2 linked regions of the Homo sapiens genome follow. The protein of the gene in region 1 binds, or shares a complex with, the protein of each later gene. Each region holds a gene or a part of one and is shown on either strand. Other genes may lie near its edges. The genes, in order: F3 and F7. A codon is read from its position in the direction of its gene.

The links.
Region 2: the proteins of F3 (region 1) and F7 are in contact, whole or in part, in a crystal structure (PDB 6R2W), measured with the Homo sapiens proteins. Residues at the interface, in NP_001984.1 of Homo sapiens: Thr49 (codon at 1,607), Asn50 (codon at 1,604), Lys52 (codon at 1,598), Ile54 (codon at 1,592), Glu56 (codon at 1,586), Trp77, Lys78, Ser79, Lys80, Phe82, Tyr83, Glu88, Asp90, Asp93, Gly141, Gln142, Thr144, Glu162, Arg163, Thr164, Leu165, Arg167, Phe172, Tyr188, Trp190, Lys191, Ser192, Ser194, Ser195, Gly196; in NP_000122.1 of Homo sapiens: Leu73, Lys78, Phe91, Arg96, Leu99, Phe100, Ser103, Ser120, Lys122, Gln124, Leu125, Ile129, Cys130, Phe131, Cys132, Leu133, Pro134, Phe136, Glu137, Gly138, Arg139, Lys145, Gln148, Ile150, Val152, Asn153, Glu154.

The regions. Positions count from the first base shown.
Region 1 is NC_000001.11:94,538,718-94,546,376, forward strand, and holds the start of F3 (tissue factor isoform 1 precursor), read right to left. Parts: upstream 3,043-7,659; 5' UTR 2,920-3,042; coding exon 2,820-2,919; intron 1,652-2,819; coding exon 1,540-1,651; intron 1-1,539. UniProt on the Homo sapiens protein: Initiates blood coagulation by forming a complex with circulating factor VII or VIIa. The [TF:VIIa] complex activates factors IX or X by specific limited proteolysis.
Region 2 is NC_000013.11:113,101,110-113,109,048, forward strand, and holds the start of F7 (coagulation factor VII isoform b precursor), read left to right. Parts: upstream 1-4,681; 5' UTR 4,682-4,687; coding exon of another isoform or gene 4,688-4,732; coding exon 4,733-4,796; intron 4,797-5,735; coding exon of another isoform or gene 5,736-5,801; intron 5,802-7,939. UniProt on the Homo sapiens protein: Initiates the extrinsic pathway of blood coagulation. Serine protease that circulates in the blood in a zymogen form. Factor VII is converted to factor VIIa by factor Xa, factor XIIa, factor IXa, or thrombin by minor proteolysis.

The sequences.
Region 1 (7,659 bases):
TGACTGCTCTGGTCCTTTTTAACCAGGAATCTCATTTATTCCTGGGGTGGGCAGGAGAAGAGTGCACACCTCAGGCCGAGGCTGATGGAAAAGCTCCCAGGCCCTCCAGTACAGCAGCAAGAGATTGTTCAGTCCATAGGACCACCCTGAGTCGGCTGGCATCCCCCAAGCTGTAGCCCTGCGCTCTGCTGTTTGCAGATCAGGAGCTGTGCTCATTTAAATAACAGCAGCCTTATAAAGTTCAAGAACTTACAGTTAACAAAGGCTTATGTTTAAAAAGCAGATGAATCATAAATATATTCCCATGTGTCCCTCAAATATTAGATTGAATATATTTAGGAGGTAAGCATTCCTCCCAAAATCTAATTTTTACCATATGGAAGTAAAGTGTTTACTAAGGTAAACTTCAGGCCTGTATCAGAGAAATTACTTACTAATTCTCAATTGGTGAAATCTGAATTGACAAGTTTGACCAGAACTGTAATCATTATTTCATGTTATGAAATTCCTTCATCTTTCTCTCCCCCCACCCCCATACATATCCACACATGCATGCACGTATGCATGCAAGTTCTCCTTGCTGGTTTGGCAACTACTGTCATGAAGTTCATTTTGAAAAACAAGAACATTCACTTAAAAGATGCATCGTTATCTAGAAGTTGCATTCCTAATGCTGTAAAAGGCCTGGCACAAGCTAAAACAAAACAGAACAGCAAAATACCTTTTGTTTTAGCTAGTGCTACTTTTGTACTTTTATGTAATTAGCATTAAAATAATTTCCACAGCAGCTATTCTCTATTTCATAAGATCTCTACCAAGCCTCCTAGAACATTTCAAAAACCAAAAACTTGCCAAGAATATGGTGAAAACCATCAAGGAAGTCATAACCTTTAGATTGAACATGCTGAATTATCGCCTCCTGGGGACAGCTGCCAGTCAGAGTTGAGGCACCAAGAAGCAGAGCCACACCAGACCCAGAGGGTGCAGACAGCAGAGTATTTCTGCTCTGCCAGGCTCAGTGAGTCACGCATTTGGCCTCCTCCACTAAGATCATGTATTCTACCAGATTTCGATTCATGGAGTCCAAAGATGAATGAATCAAACACTGCTTAAGGGCAATGTATACATTGGGATTCCTCCCCACCTCTTCCCTAAGGTGTTAGACATTGTTCACAGTCTAGACAGCAACAGAAAAAGACATCAATGTTTAGATGAGATTAATTAATCTATCATGACCCAAAGCACACTTCAGTGCCTACTCAAGATGGTTCATCTCTCCACAGTTTATACTCCACTTAGGAACTCTCCCATCATTTCCAAAAACAATTAAAACAATTAAAATGTTCTATCAGTTTAAGGTCTGGAAATGTTGCAGGCCTAATAGAGTATGACACCGGCCAGCGAATTGCCAAGAATCCCTTCTTCTTCGTCATCTGTTAAATAATTTCATCCAGTAATCAGCTTTAAAGACATTCTTGTTCAGCATAGGACAGTAGAAACATCAAAGACCTTAATTTTCTTTTTCTGTACCCAGCTTACCTTATTTGAACAGTGTAGACTTGATTGACGGGTTTGGGTTCCCACTCCAAAATTGTCTTGAAATTAGTTGATTTCCAAGTTAAATTATATGCTGCCACAGTATTTGTAGTGCCTTTAAACAACAGAGAAACAGCTATTATTACATGCACTTCAGAGCACTCGAATGTATTGATGTATAAAACACCTTCCCACCTGACATCACCATAAACCTCACTTTTTATTTTTCAACCACAAAAGCTTCATTAGTGAATTATCAAGAGAAAAAGAATCTTCAAATTTTTTCTAGACCTAGAATTTCTTCATGACAAGATTCACCTTGTAATCCCAGGACACCGGCAAGGATCTTGACATTTTCGTTTGAAATTATTCATGGGCAAAGCCTTGTTATAACTTGACCGGGAAGAGCCCAGAGCCATCAGTGTGCCAGTCCAGGACTCAGCTCAGGAAGAGTCAGGTTCAGCCCGCCAGGAAGGGTTTTCAGTAAGTTATGGAAAAAGATAAATCCCACACGTGTGACAAGAGTTAGGACTGCATACAAATGAAAAAAGCCAAACTTCACTTTTTCCACTTTTATCTGAAATGTCGCTACACTGAAACTTCCACAGAGACCCACGGGGACGTGTGGCCTGTCACACCGTCGGCTGTATTGGATCAGGATTATTTCTTATGAAGGTCTGCTTTGCCAGTACGCAGCAGGTCCCAGTCTCTACGCCGTCCCGAACACCTCGTAGAAATACGGGGCATGCACAACGTTGTACCTGCTCCAATCTAAGCAGCAATCCAGCCCTTTTGGATTGCCTCTACCCAAACCTAGAACAAAGATGGCCAGGAAAAGACCAGGGACGCTCTTTATTAAGGGAAGATGCACATATAATGAAAGATAATATCCAAACCTCTGCACGCCAACACGTGCAGACGCAGGCACAAGTCCTATCATATTGAAGGTCGCAACTCACTGGGAAGCCCTTTCCCCAGAGTTAAAGCGGGAGCTAAAAGTCCGCTTATGCAACAACAGTCCAATTACTCGGACACCCCGAGCAAAACTCTCCAGCGGAAGGGGCAGCGGGGTCTGGGGCGCCAACTCCCTCCCTGCAACTCCCGCCGGCGCCCGACGGACTCGGTTCATTCAAGCCGGGCTGGGTGAGCGCAGCCGAGTCCCGTAGGCGCGGGGGACAACATGGGCGCCCCGGGGAACCAGGGCGAGCCCGCTGCCAGCCAGGACTGTCGCCTCCCTCCTGCGTGTGGCGCGCCCCGGGCTTCCAGGGGCTGGTGCCACTCACCTGAAGCGCCGGCCACCTGGGCGAAGACCCAGCCGAGCAGGAGCGTCCGAGCGACGGCGGTCTCGGGGCGCGGGACCCGGGGCCAGGCAGGGGTCTCCATGTCTACCAGTTGGCGGCGAGATCGAGCGGGTTCCGTGGCGCCCGTGGGGCTGGGGAGGTTGGGCTGAAGGCGCCCTGGGCCGGCCAGAGGGAGTGCGAGGGGGTGCGGGGAGCTCGCAGTCTTGGGGAGCCGGTGCCCCGCGCGCTATAAAGGGCCGGCGGCGCGCTCTCCCGCGCCTCTGCCCGCCCCCGGCGCCCGCCCCCGCCGCTCCTCCCGACTCCCCGCCCCCGGCCCGGGTCACTTGCCGTCGCGGTGGGCGGCCCCCGGCGAGTCCACACCCCTGCCCCGCCTCCTCCCGGTAGGAAACTCCGGGACCCTGCAAGGGATGACTCACCCCAGTGATTCAACCGCGCCACCGAGCGCGGAGCTGCCCTGGAGGACGCAGGCGGGTCTAGTTGCCCGGGTCCCCCAAGGCCCCCGGATTCACCCAGGCCCGCGACTCCGACGTGCAGCTTAGGTGGGTTGCAGGTCTATGGCAGGAAAGGGAGGGCGCCTTGGAAGAATTCTTCCCTTCCATTTGGTGATAAAGTGGGAGAGGCGGCATTTACAACATTTAATAGAAAGCACGGGCTCTGGGCTCCCCTCGGGCAGCGGAGGGCATTTCCCGGATGCTTTGCCCACCTGGGGCAGAAGCTCGGGACCTGCAGCGAAGTAAACGTGTGGCTGTGAGCAGGGCCCTCTCCCAGCCACGGTGGCTTCTTCTACCCCACGAAGGTCAAGAATACCTGGCCTGCCCACCTCGCGGGGCCCTTAGCGGGTCGCACAGGAGAAAGGCGGTGGGAATGCCGGTGTCAGCCACGGTGTGACCGGCTCGGCTCACAGGTCTGAGGGTCAGTTGGCTCAGGCATCGCCCGGTACGACCAGAGATAGTGACTGAGGAAGAGCAGCCTCACATCTGGCAGTTTGCCTCTGGGAGAATTCCAGCGTGACATCTGCAGCTCTGTGGTTCCAGAAAGGATGGTTCCCACATTGAAGAAGACATCTGTGGGACTGAGTTCCACCGAAATGCAGAGGAACCAAAAATGAAAATGAAAAATGTAACCAGAGTTGTGTGCCACTAGTTTTAAGCTTTGGTTTTTCTAAATTATTTTCTGGCTTCTCCTTCTGGGCTTTGCTGTAAACTTGCCAAGCATGAGAACAACTCTTCATCTATTGAGTGGCATTTTAAGCCATCCTGTCAAAGTATCTCCTGTCATTTTTATTATTATTACTCTATATTGCCTGCAAGACACGACTGGAGAATTCTTAGTGTAAGAATTGTTTGTTTCCTCTCTCCTTCTTTCCCACGTTTTCCCAGGGAAGTCAGTCTTGCATTTTAATGCATACTATATACATATCTCGTTTAGCTTACTGAACCACTTGTTTTAACAGAATAAAACTGTGCAAAATTTTAATTTTCCTCCTTTGCCTGAACTGAAATAGCACATCCAGGTTTAGCCCTTGTAGACTTTCCTTCCTCGAAGCAGAAAGTTGCCCTTGATGATTTCCTCTTTGAGCTCTCTGCCAGCTCTGAAACCCACAAAATTTATGTTTGCAAAACTAAGCCATGCAATCCTCTTTTTATGCAGGCTCTAGCCTGAGTCATTTTCCCTAAGAGATCTTCAGCTCCACCTGGGATGTGATTCTTTGCTCTCTGGGATTGAAGGTAGCTGAAGAGAAATAGTTACACTTCAGGTTTGTTACAAGACCCAAGAAATTGTTGCAATTCCACTTGGAGTCACTGACTTTTCTGAAATCATATAGGGCTTTAAACAATGTCAAGATCAGCCATTTGATAAGAAAAATGTTTACCATTGGATTGTGATACACAATGTGCCTTAAATATTGATAAATTAGATGAATATTTATTTTGTATATCCATTAAAATAGACAGGAAAGAGAAGATGTTGGGTGTTTGCACAGGCTTTTTAGTCAGTACGGAATGACATTCTTCAAGATTTAAAAATGCTAAAATCATTACTATTTTCAAGAAGAGGGAGGAAGAAAACGTGGTAAATAATATTTCATTGCGAAGTGTTTTTCCCTGACTGATCTAATTGTGGCCAGATCTACTTTTTGACGGTGCGAAGTGTACTTTTTAATGGTGCCAAACAGCAGTTGATCTATAATAACTGCTGCTTGGCACCATTAAAAAGTACATATCTAAAATTTCACTGTTGAAATTTGTTCACAAGAACAAATTGACTGTTAAAATTATTCCCTAACCTTAACACAATTTTTTTTACTCCTGTCAGTAAAGTCAAGCTTAGCAGTTAACAGTTCCCTCCTCCATGATCTATCTTGGAGGCTCTGAGAAGTTCAAAAAGTTACTAAACTATAACAATAATCTCTCTGGCTTGACCAGTCCCTTTCTCATTGGATTTTAGGATGTCAGAGGATGGGAGAACCTCACAGACATTCTTTTATGGATGAGAACCCTGTGGCCAGCTGATCTGAGTAAACTGGCTTGCCTAACCACACAGTGCAGATCTGGTCTTCTGACCCCGGGGGCTTTCCTTCCATCACCAGGCTTTCTCCTACTCCCAATGAAGGAAAGTAAGACTGGGTGGTAAATCCATCAAATGAATGATTAATTAATCCATCCATAAGCACTCAAAAATGTTCTGCATGTACACAAAGTGCAGAAAAGTGCAAAACTGCACAAAAACTGCACACAAAGTATAGAAAATACTTTGCAGTTTGGGGAACTCATTGTTCTTAGGCAGAAATATCCTGATGGTTAGTCCTTGAAATAGACAGACAAGGAGACACGTAGAAGAGTTTGAATTCCCTTTGCATAACCAGTGATGAAATGTGGTTGATGAGAAGTCTGAAAATAACTGCGGAGATGTTTCAGCCCTTCCACTGTACTTTTATAGTACTTGCTGCCAATTTTACCGACTCATTTTCATTGAGAACTTCACTTAATCTCACTTGTGTGTTTACCTGTTAATCTTTCCTGTTGGATTGGGTTTTTTGTCTGTTTTTTTCCTCTCTCAACCCTTTCCACAATTATCAGCACATAATAGGCACTTAATACCTTTTGAGTCAATGAATACTTTATAAAACTATGAGTGCAACCAAATATTTCACTGGTGTTCAAGAGATGAAATCTGTCACTGAAAACTCTTTCTAGGGGCCAGGCAGTGAGTGTTTCATGATGCTGAGATTGGTAAGAAAATACAAATCCATCATGACTGGAAAGGCACCACTCGACCGCAAGTTCTAGCAGTCTAACCAGTGATTAGCTATCTCTGCACCACCAGAAAATCTCACCAGGAGGAGAGATAGCTGAGAAGCAGAAACCAGATACAGAAGTTTGGAAACTAGCTAGCATTTTTTTAAAAGACTGGATTCTACGATGATTCAGAATATACTTCATCATGCGATGAGGTTGTTGATAGTTTTCCTTGCATACAGAGGCTGAATAACTTTTTAAAACAAATTCCTCAAAATGTTTATTTCCCAGGAAAGAGATAGGTTAAGATACATGATAGCAAGTAAAATTGAGAATAATTCAGAGAAACTTATTTTATGCATATGAAATGGTAAAAAGAGCAATGAAACCATTACCCAAAATTCAGGTAAAAGGCAAAGTATGAGAAAAGGCCAGAGGGAATTAGGAGTTAGTAGGAACACAGAGTTCTGGAGGAAAAGGAAAAAAGTGACTCAGCAGAACCTAAGAAACATCTGGCTGGGTATAGTTAGTCATGGAAAAATTGGCAGTCATGATTATGCATTTTGTGAAAATAGCAATATACTAGTCCAACAGTTCATTTAGACCAAAATTAAACAGTTGAAAGTCAGTATGATAAAATCTATTATCCTGGTCATTCAAAATACTTCTATCAACTGTCTAGAACAGCTTACAAGAAGCTTTGCTAAATGAGTTATCACATAGCACCAGTATTCTGAAAAATGTAACTTTAGAGAAAAACCTTCCAATTCAAGTCTTAGACTGGGATTGGTATTTTCAGCAGACATCTATTTTTATAAACGTAAAGCTTATCAAACTACCTTTCAACTTTCATTTTGATGAACAGTAAATATTATTTTATTATCTACATACAATGGTGACAAAATAGATAAATAATAAATATGAATTGTGGGTATTATTTTAGTAACAAAAAGTCATTTAAAATGAAAACCCTTAACCTATGTTCTTATTAATATAATATTTATGTGATTTAAAATTTTGTATATGGTATCATTTACTTAAGCATCTCTTAATTCCTCATTTCTGTAACTCTTTATACCTGACATATGTACTAAATTTGATGAACAGAAATTCATTCATTCAACAAATGCTTGAATGTCCACCAGATACTGGGTTCTTTGCTAGACTCTGGATGTACAGAGTAAAACAAAGAAGTCCCTTTCCTGTTAAACATATCATCATTCCTACTTATGTCCAGATTTTATGTTTGTTTGTTTGTTTTTTGAGACAGAGTTTCGCTCTTGTTGCCCCAGGCTGGAGTGCAATGGCACAATCTCGGCTCACTGCAACTCCACCTCCCAGGTTCAAAGCAATTCTCCTGCCTCAGCCTCCTGAGTAACTGGGATTACAGGCATGTGCCACCATGCCCAGCTAATTTTGTATTTTTAGTACATACAGGTTTATCTATGTTGGTCAGGCTGGTCTCAAACTCCCGACCTCAGGTGATCCGCCTGCCTCTGCCCCCCAAAGTGCCGGGATTACAGGTGTGAACCACCATGCCCGGCAGATTTTATGGTTTGAATGATTTTCTGTCAGCATTTGAA
Region 2 (7,939 bases), on another chromosome or scaffold:
AAGGCCAGCGCGGCGGCTCAGGCCTGTCATCCCAGCACTTTGGGAGGCCGAGGCGGCAGATCACGAGGTCAGGAGATCGAGACCATCCTGGCTAACACGGTGAAACCCCGTCTCTATTAAAAATACAAAATTAGCCGGGCGTGGTGGTGCATGCCTGTAATCCCAGCTACTCGGGAGGCTGAGACGGGAGAATCGCCTGATCCCAGGAGGCAGAGGTTGCCGTGAGCCGAGATGTCGCCATTGCACTCCAGCCTGGGCAACAAGAGTGAAACTCCATCTCAAAAAAAGAAAAAAAGAAAAAGGAACCAAGGCATGCTAATTGAAAAATAACTTTTCATATCTAGAAAAACCAGGTGAATTCATAAACTATTGAAACTAAGAAGTCCACAAGATCAACCCACAAAAAGTTATTAACATTCCTAGCAATAACAATACTATTTTAACAGCAACCTAAATACTAAAATAAATGTAACAAAAGTTTTGGACAAAATTATGAAACATGATAGAAGGTCATAAAAGAAGGCCTAAATGGGAGATTTTTATGGATGGGACAATTCAGTATCACCAAAGTGTTAACTCTCCCCCAAGTTAATCTGTGTATTTCATCAAAATTCCAACAGAATTCTTTGTGGAATTAGGAAGTTGATTGTAATAAACATAGAAGATAAAGGTCTGAGTATAGCCGTGGTGATTCGGGGAGCAGAGGCAGGAGGAGGAGGGCTCACCTACCAGGCATCTGGATAGATCATAAACCTGTCATCAGTCGTGACAAGGGGGAGAGAGGCTAAACTGGTCGAGCAGAATTCAGATTCCCAGGCAGGGATGTGTGCAGGGACCTGGCTTGTCCTGGGGCTGGTCAATCTTTGGCACGGAATGGCCTCTTCAGGAACGGGTGTTATTGGGACAGCTGCCTTTCCATGTGGATGATGGCATAAAAGTATAGCCCCCCCAAACTTAAGATTAAAACATTATTATGAGGAAACAGAATATTCTTATTGCCTAGGGCAAGGATAGATTTCTTACAAAAGACAAGCTACACTTTAAGAGATGGACAAAAAGATAAGATGGACAATCTGAGCACATCCCATGGTGAATTTCTCTCCACGCTAAGACCCCAGACAAGGGTGAAAAGCAGGACCAAGGCCCAGAGAAGAAAAATTCTGCTCAAAATCATAACTGTTCAACCTTGCATACATTCTCTCTCTTAAACTGAAAGTTAGCATCCTACAGCACTGGTGTGACACCCGGCAGGCCCGAGGGCTCAGCTGCCTCCAGCTGTGGCCCCAAGAAGGCAAAGCACCCGGGTGGGGTGGAGGGAGCAGCCCCGTGCTCTACTGGCTGACAGTGGTGCCCAGGCCCAGCTCCCTTCTCTGCACAGACAGCAGAGTTCCGCTTAGCACAGGCTTTTCCTCGCCAGTGCACACACTGTCAGCCATTGGAACTGGCCTGCAAGACAGCTTGCTGTGGCGGCTTTGCAGGCACAGGGCACACAGGCATCCGTGCACGCAGCTCCTCTGTCCTCCCATGCCCTGCACCCTCCGTCACAAGGAAACCCTTGCTTCTAGGATTGCACCAAATAGGATTTGGAACCAATTGGTGCCCAAGCTCAAATCCTGTTAGTGGCTGCCTGTTTCCCTGGCATACATGCGTCCTGCCGAGATGCATTTGGCACCAGGTGGGATGTGCTCACTGGTTCCCAAAACGAGAACACATAGCAGTTTCCCTGGATGTTTGTTCAATACTATTCCCGGGACCTGCCCGTAGATTCCAATTCCTTATGGGTGTGGAAGAGCCTGGAAATCACGTGTGTGTAGGTGTGTGGCATGTGTATAGGGGTGTGTTTATGTGGTGTGACTTTGGGGTATGAGTGTGGCATGTGTACGGTGTGTGTGAGTGTGGTATGTGTATGGCGTGAGTTTGGGTTGTGCGAGCGTGGTTCTCATGTACGAGTGTGAGCATGGAGATTCTTTGGTAGGGAAGGAGTCAGGGTCTCCCTCTGTCGCCCAGGCTTGAGTGCAGTGGCACAATCTCAGCTCATTGCAACCTCTGCCTCCCGGGTTCTCTGTCTCTGGGACCACAGGCATGAACCACCAAGCCCAGCTAATTTTTTTATTTTTTGTCTAGCTTTGGTCTTGCTATGTTGCCCAGGTTGGTCTGGAACTCCTTTCCTCAAGCGATCCTCAGTCCTCAGCCTCCCAAAGTGCTGGGATTACAGGCATGAGCCACCACCCAAGAGATTCTGATGTCACAGACATCTGACTCACACACTCCCTGGACAGCTCACGTGTGCCCACCACCACAGTCAGGGATGGCTGCAGATGAACAAGGTGCTGACGTGGTTTCTGTAGCCCCCAAACAAGCAACTTGCCTTGAGATGACAACCAAAGTTTTCCTGTGTCCTCCACACTCAAGAGTGACTGTGAGGCGGAGGGGCCCAGCCCTTCTTGCAGGCGGGAATGAGTGGATGGGTGGATCAACAGAGGCTGCCACAGGAGAGAGGGAGGCCTGGCCTGGGAACAGAGCTGTGACCGTGCCCTTCCCCAGGGTAGGGGCTGAAGGACCCTCCCATCCTAGTGACAGGGCCACAGCATGTCCAAGGAGGCCCCAGAGGAGGTCCCGGGAGTCCTGGGAGAGCCTGGTTAGCCTCCCTGAAGGGAGGAAGTGGGGTTTTGTGAGAGGGATGGTGCAGCAGCCCCCACACCTGCTACTCCGTGTGGCCGGGTCCAGCCCCAGGCAAGGTTCCAGGCATGCCCCTGGGACAGACGTGGGAGGGAGACCAGCAGGCAGGTCCCCCTCAGGGAGGTATGGAGCGGGTCCCCGGGGCCAGGTGGAGCCCCTCACACCTGTGTCCTCAAGGACCCACACCAGGACAATGGCCATAGGCGGGCACCTGCAGCCGCCCTGGCCAGCAGTGAGACGGGCAGAGAGCCCAGCCAGATAGCCCGGTTCCTGCCCCCTCCCGCCTGCCCGCACAGAGAGGGCTGCATGCAGGTGAGGGTCCATCACCTGAAGAGCTTCACCAGCCCCGAGGCCATGAGCCACTGAATCTCTCAGGGGGTTTTGGCGCTTGAGGTTCCCCAGGTCATTCTGCTGCCCAGAGAGGGTTGAGGACCTCTGACCTGGAGCCCCAAAGGGGAAGGGTACCCTAAGACCAGCCAGCCATCTACTCTCAGGTGGGAAAGGGGTAGGGTTTAGATATGGCCCCCTCCCCTCCACGTCCTGAAATTACCTTGGGCTGTGCTGGCCGAGAGCCGCGGGGACCAGATTTGAGCTGGACGTGAGCTTTATTCCAGACGGAGCAGCTACTTTGTAAGCGATCTCCCTGGGATCGATATCATGGAGGGGCACAGATGGGCTTCAGCTGTGCTGGGTGGAAGAGAAAACATGCCCTGTCGGCCCCTCAGCAAGTGCTCTGCTCTCTGGACTGAGATGCAGGTCAGCAGCAAGCAGGGAGGCTTTGGGGGTGCTGGGGGCTGCTTTGAAAGGCACCCCTGAGCTAAGACTTGGCTGTTGGGAAGGAATCACCTCCCTCCCTCCAGCCGTAAAAAGAACTGGACATCAGCTTCCAAAGAAGTCATCAGCAATGCAACTGTTCACATGGAGGATACTCCCTGCTTGAGGGGTCAGACAGGCCTGCTGGGCAACCCAGGAGGCTTGGATGACCGTCTACCCCAGTGTTTTTGGGATGGAAAGTTCCACATTCTGAGAACCCTCAGTCCCTGGGCAACCTGGGGTGGTTAGTCACCACAGCTTGTGGCTTGGGCCCATGACAGCAGGTAGAAATGACGTGGACTGCCGCCAGCCGGGCACAGTGGCTCACGCCTGTAATCCCAGCACTTTGGGAGGCTGAGGCATGTGGATCACTTGAGGTCAGGAGTTCGAAACCAGCCTGGTCAACACGGTGAAACCCCATCTCTGCTAAAAAAAAAAAATATATATATATAAATTAGCCAGGCATGGTGACGTGCACCTGTGGTCCCAGCTACTCAGGAGGCTGAGGCACAAGAATCACTTGAACCCGGGAGGTGGAGGTTGCAGTGAGATTGCACCAGTGCACTCTCCAGCCTGGCAACAGAGCAAGACTCTGTCTCAAACAAACAAAACAAAACAAACAAAAAGACGTAAGATGTGGACCGCTGGAGAATGGGGGTGCTGCCTGCAGTCAAAACGGAGTGGGGGTGCCCAGCTCAGGGCCAGAATGATCCTATTCCCGGCACTTCTCAGTGAGGCTCTGTGGCTCACCTAAGAAACCAGCCTCCCTTGCAGGCAACGGCCTAGCTGGCCTGGTCTGGAGGCTCTCTTCAAATATTTACATCCACACCCAAGATACAGTCTTGAGATTTGACTCGCATGATTGCTATGGGACAAGTTTTCATCTGCAGTTTAAATCTGTTTCCCAACTTACATTAGGGGTTTGGAATTCTAGATCGTATTTGAAGTGTTGGTGCCACACACACCTTAACACCTGCACGCTGGCAACAAAACCGTCCGCTCTGCAGCACAGCTGGGGTCACCTGACCTTTCTCCTGTCCCCCCCACTTGAGCTCAGTGGCTGGGCAGCAGGGGATGCATGGCCACTGGCCGGCCAGGTGCAGCTCTCAGCTGGGGTGTTCAGAGGACGCCTGTGTCCTCCCCTCCCCCATCCCTCTGTCACCCTTGGAGGCAGAGAACTTTGCCCGTCAGTCCCATGGGGAATGTCAACAGGCAGGGGCAGCACTGCAGAGATTTCATCATGGTCTCCCAGGCCCTCAGGCTCCTCTGCCTTCTGCTTGGGCTTCAGGGCTGCCTGGCTGCAGGTGCGTCCGGGGAGGTTTTCTCCATAAACTTGGTGGAAGGGCAGTGGGCAAATCCAGGAGCCAGCCCGGGCTTCCCAAACCCCGCCCTTGCTCCGGACACCCCCATCCACCAGGAGGGTTTTCTGGCGGCTCCTGTTCAATTTCTTTCCTTCTAGAAACCAGCATCCAGGCACAGGAGGGGAGGCCCTTCTTGGTGGCCCAGGCTTTGGCGGGATTATTTTTCAAAGAACTTTAGGAGTGGGTGGTGCTTTCCTGGCCCCCATGGGCCCCTGCCTGTGAGGTCGGACAAGCGCAGGGAGTCTGGGGCCTCTCAGAGTGCAGGAAGTGCGCACAGGGTGCTCCCAGGCTGGGGAGCACAGGTAGGGGACGGTGCGTGGGGGATGGCGCCTGGGGCATGGGGGATGGGGTGTGGGAAACGGCATGTGGGGCGTAGGGGATGGGGTGTGGAGGATCGGGGGTGGGGATGGCGTGTGGGGTGTGGGGGATGGGCCGTGGGGGGGTGGGGCCTGGGAAACAGCATGTGGGGCATGGGGTGTGGGGGTGAGGTGTGGGAAAGTGTGTGGGGTGTGGGGGATGGGGCATGGAAAGGGCGTGTGGGGTGCAGGGGATGGGGCATGGAGGTGTGGGGGATGGGGTGTGTGGGGTGTCGGGGATGGGGCATGTGGGGTGTGGGGGATGGGGCATGGAAAGGGCGTGTGGGGTGCAGAGGATGGGGCATGGGGGGGTGGGGATGGCGAGTGGGGCTGGGGCCTGGGAATGGTGAGTGGGGCATGGGGATGGCGAGTAGGGGGTGTGGCGTGAGGATGGCTAGTGGGGCGTGGGGATGGCGTGTGGGGATGGCGAGTGGGGGGTGGGCTGTGAGGGACAGTGCCTGGGATGTGGGGCTGCAGCCCTAGCTCACAGCATGGCCTTATGACCCCGGCCACCTTCCTGCCCCAGGCGGGGTCGCTAAGGCCTCAGGAGGAGAAACACGGGACATGCCGTGGAAGCCGGGGCCTCACAGAGGTGAGCAGGGACTGCCACTGGTTTTGTCCTGGGGCCCAGTGGGGGCCAACATCACCTCCTTCCCCTCCCATGGCAAAGAGCCAGCCCGCGGGGTGGCTACTGCAGTGCCCCCCAAGGAGGGTGTTCCCTGCTCGAGAGGAAGTGACCGCTCCAGCTTGGCCTTCCCTGGGACTGGGGTGCAGGCGATTTTATCTTCTTTGCTCCATTCTGTTCCTTCCAGATAATCGTGTGTTCTTCATCAGGTTTTCCTCAGTTCTTGAGAGCTTTTCTGATGCAAATCTGCTTTCACCCCAGGGCGGTCACCGGCTCTGCTCACACCAGCCTCCAAGGGTGTGGGTGTCCCGGGAGTGTGGGTGTCCCGGGGGCGTGGGTGTCCCAGGAGTGTGGGTGTCCCGGGGGCGTGGGTGTCCCGGGAGTGTGGGTGTCCCGGGGGCGTGGGTGTCCCGGGAGTGTGGGTGTCCCGGAGGCGAGGGTGTCCCGGGAGTGTGGGTGTCCCGGGGGAGTGGGTGTCCCGGGAGTGTGGGTGTCCCGGAGGCGAGGGTGTCCCGGGAGTGTGGGTGTCCCGGGGGCGTGGGTGTCCCGGGAGTGTGGGTGTCCCGGGGGAGTGGGTGTCCCGGGAGTGTGGGTGTCCCGGAGGCGAGGGTGTCCCGGGAGTGTGGGTGTCCCGGGGGAGTGGGTGTCCCGGGAGTGTGGGTGTCCCGGAGGCGAGGGTGTCCCGGGAGTGTGGGTGTCCCGGGGGCGTGGGTGTCCCGGGAGCGTGGGTGTCCCGGGGGCGTGGGTGTCCCGGGAGTGTGGGTGTCCCGGGGGCGTGGGTGTCCCGGGAGTGTGGGTGTCCCGGGGGCGTGGGTGTCCCGGGAGTGTGGGTGTCCCGGGAGTGTGGGTGTTCCGGAGGCGAGGGTGTCCCGGGAGTGTGCGTGTCCCGGGGGCGTGGGTGTCCCGGGGGCGTGGGTGTCCCGGGGGCGTGGGTGTTCCGGAGGCGAGGGTATCCCAGAAGTGTGAGTGTCCCAGGGGCGTGGGTGTCCCGGGGGTGTGGGTGTCCCGGGGGCGTGGGTGTCCCGGGAGTGTGGGTGTTCCGGAGGTGAGGGTGTCCCGGGAGTGTGGGTGTTCCGGAGGCGAGGGTGTCCCGGGAGTGTGGGTGTCCCGGGGGCGTGGGTGTCCCGGGAGTGTGGGTGTTCCGGAGGTGAGGGTGTCCCGGGAGTGTGGGTGTTCCGGAGGCGAGGGTGTCCCGGGAGTGTGGGTGTCCCAGGGGCGTGGGTGTCCCGGGAGTGTGGGTGTTCCGGAGGCGAGGGTGTCCCGGGAGTGTGGGTGTTCCGGAGGCGAGGGTGTCCCGGGAGTGTGGGTGTCCCGGGGGCGTGGGTGTCCCGGGGGTTGTGGGTGTCCCGGGAGTGTGGGTGTTCCGGAGGCGAGGGTGTCCCGGGAGTGTGGGTGTTCCGGAGGCGAGGGTGTCCCGGGAGTGTGGGTGTCCCGGGGGTGTGGGTGTCCCGGGGGTGTGGGTGTCCCGGGAGTGTGGGTGTCCCGGGGGAGTGGGTGTCCCGGGAGTGTGGGTGTTCCGGAGGCGAGGGTGTCCCAGGAGCGTGGGTGTCCCGGAGGCGAGGGTGTCCCGGGAGCGTGGGTGTCCCGGGGGCGTGGGTGTCCCGGGAGTGTGGGTGTCCCGGGGGAGTGGGTGTCCCGGGAGTGTGGGTGTCCCGGAGGCGAGGGTGTCCCAGGAGTGTGGGTGTCCCGGGGGCGTGGGTGTCCCGGGAGTGTGGGTGTTCCAGAGGCGAGGGTATCCCAGAAGTGTGAGTGTCCCGGGGGTGTGGGTGTCCCGGGGGTCGTGGGTGTCCCGGGAGTGTGGGTGTTCCAGAGGCGAGGGTGTCCCGGGAGTGTGGGTGTCCCAGGGGTGTGGGTGTCCCGGGGGCGTGGGTGTCCCGGGAGTGTGGGTGTCCCGGGGGAGTGGGTGTCCCGGGAGTGTGGGTGTTCCGGAGGCGAGGGTGTCCCGGGAGTGTGGGTGTTCCGGAGGCGAGGGTGTCCCGGGAGCGTGGGTGTCCCGGGGGCGTGGGTGTCCCGGGAGCGTGGGTGTCCCAGGGGTGTGGGTGTCCCGGGGGCGTGGGTGTCCCGGGAGTGTGGGTGTCCCGGGGGAGTGGATGTCCCGGGAGTGT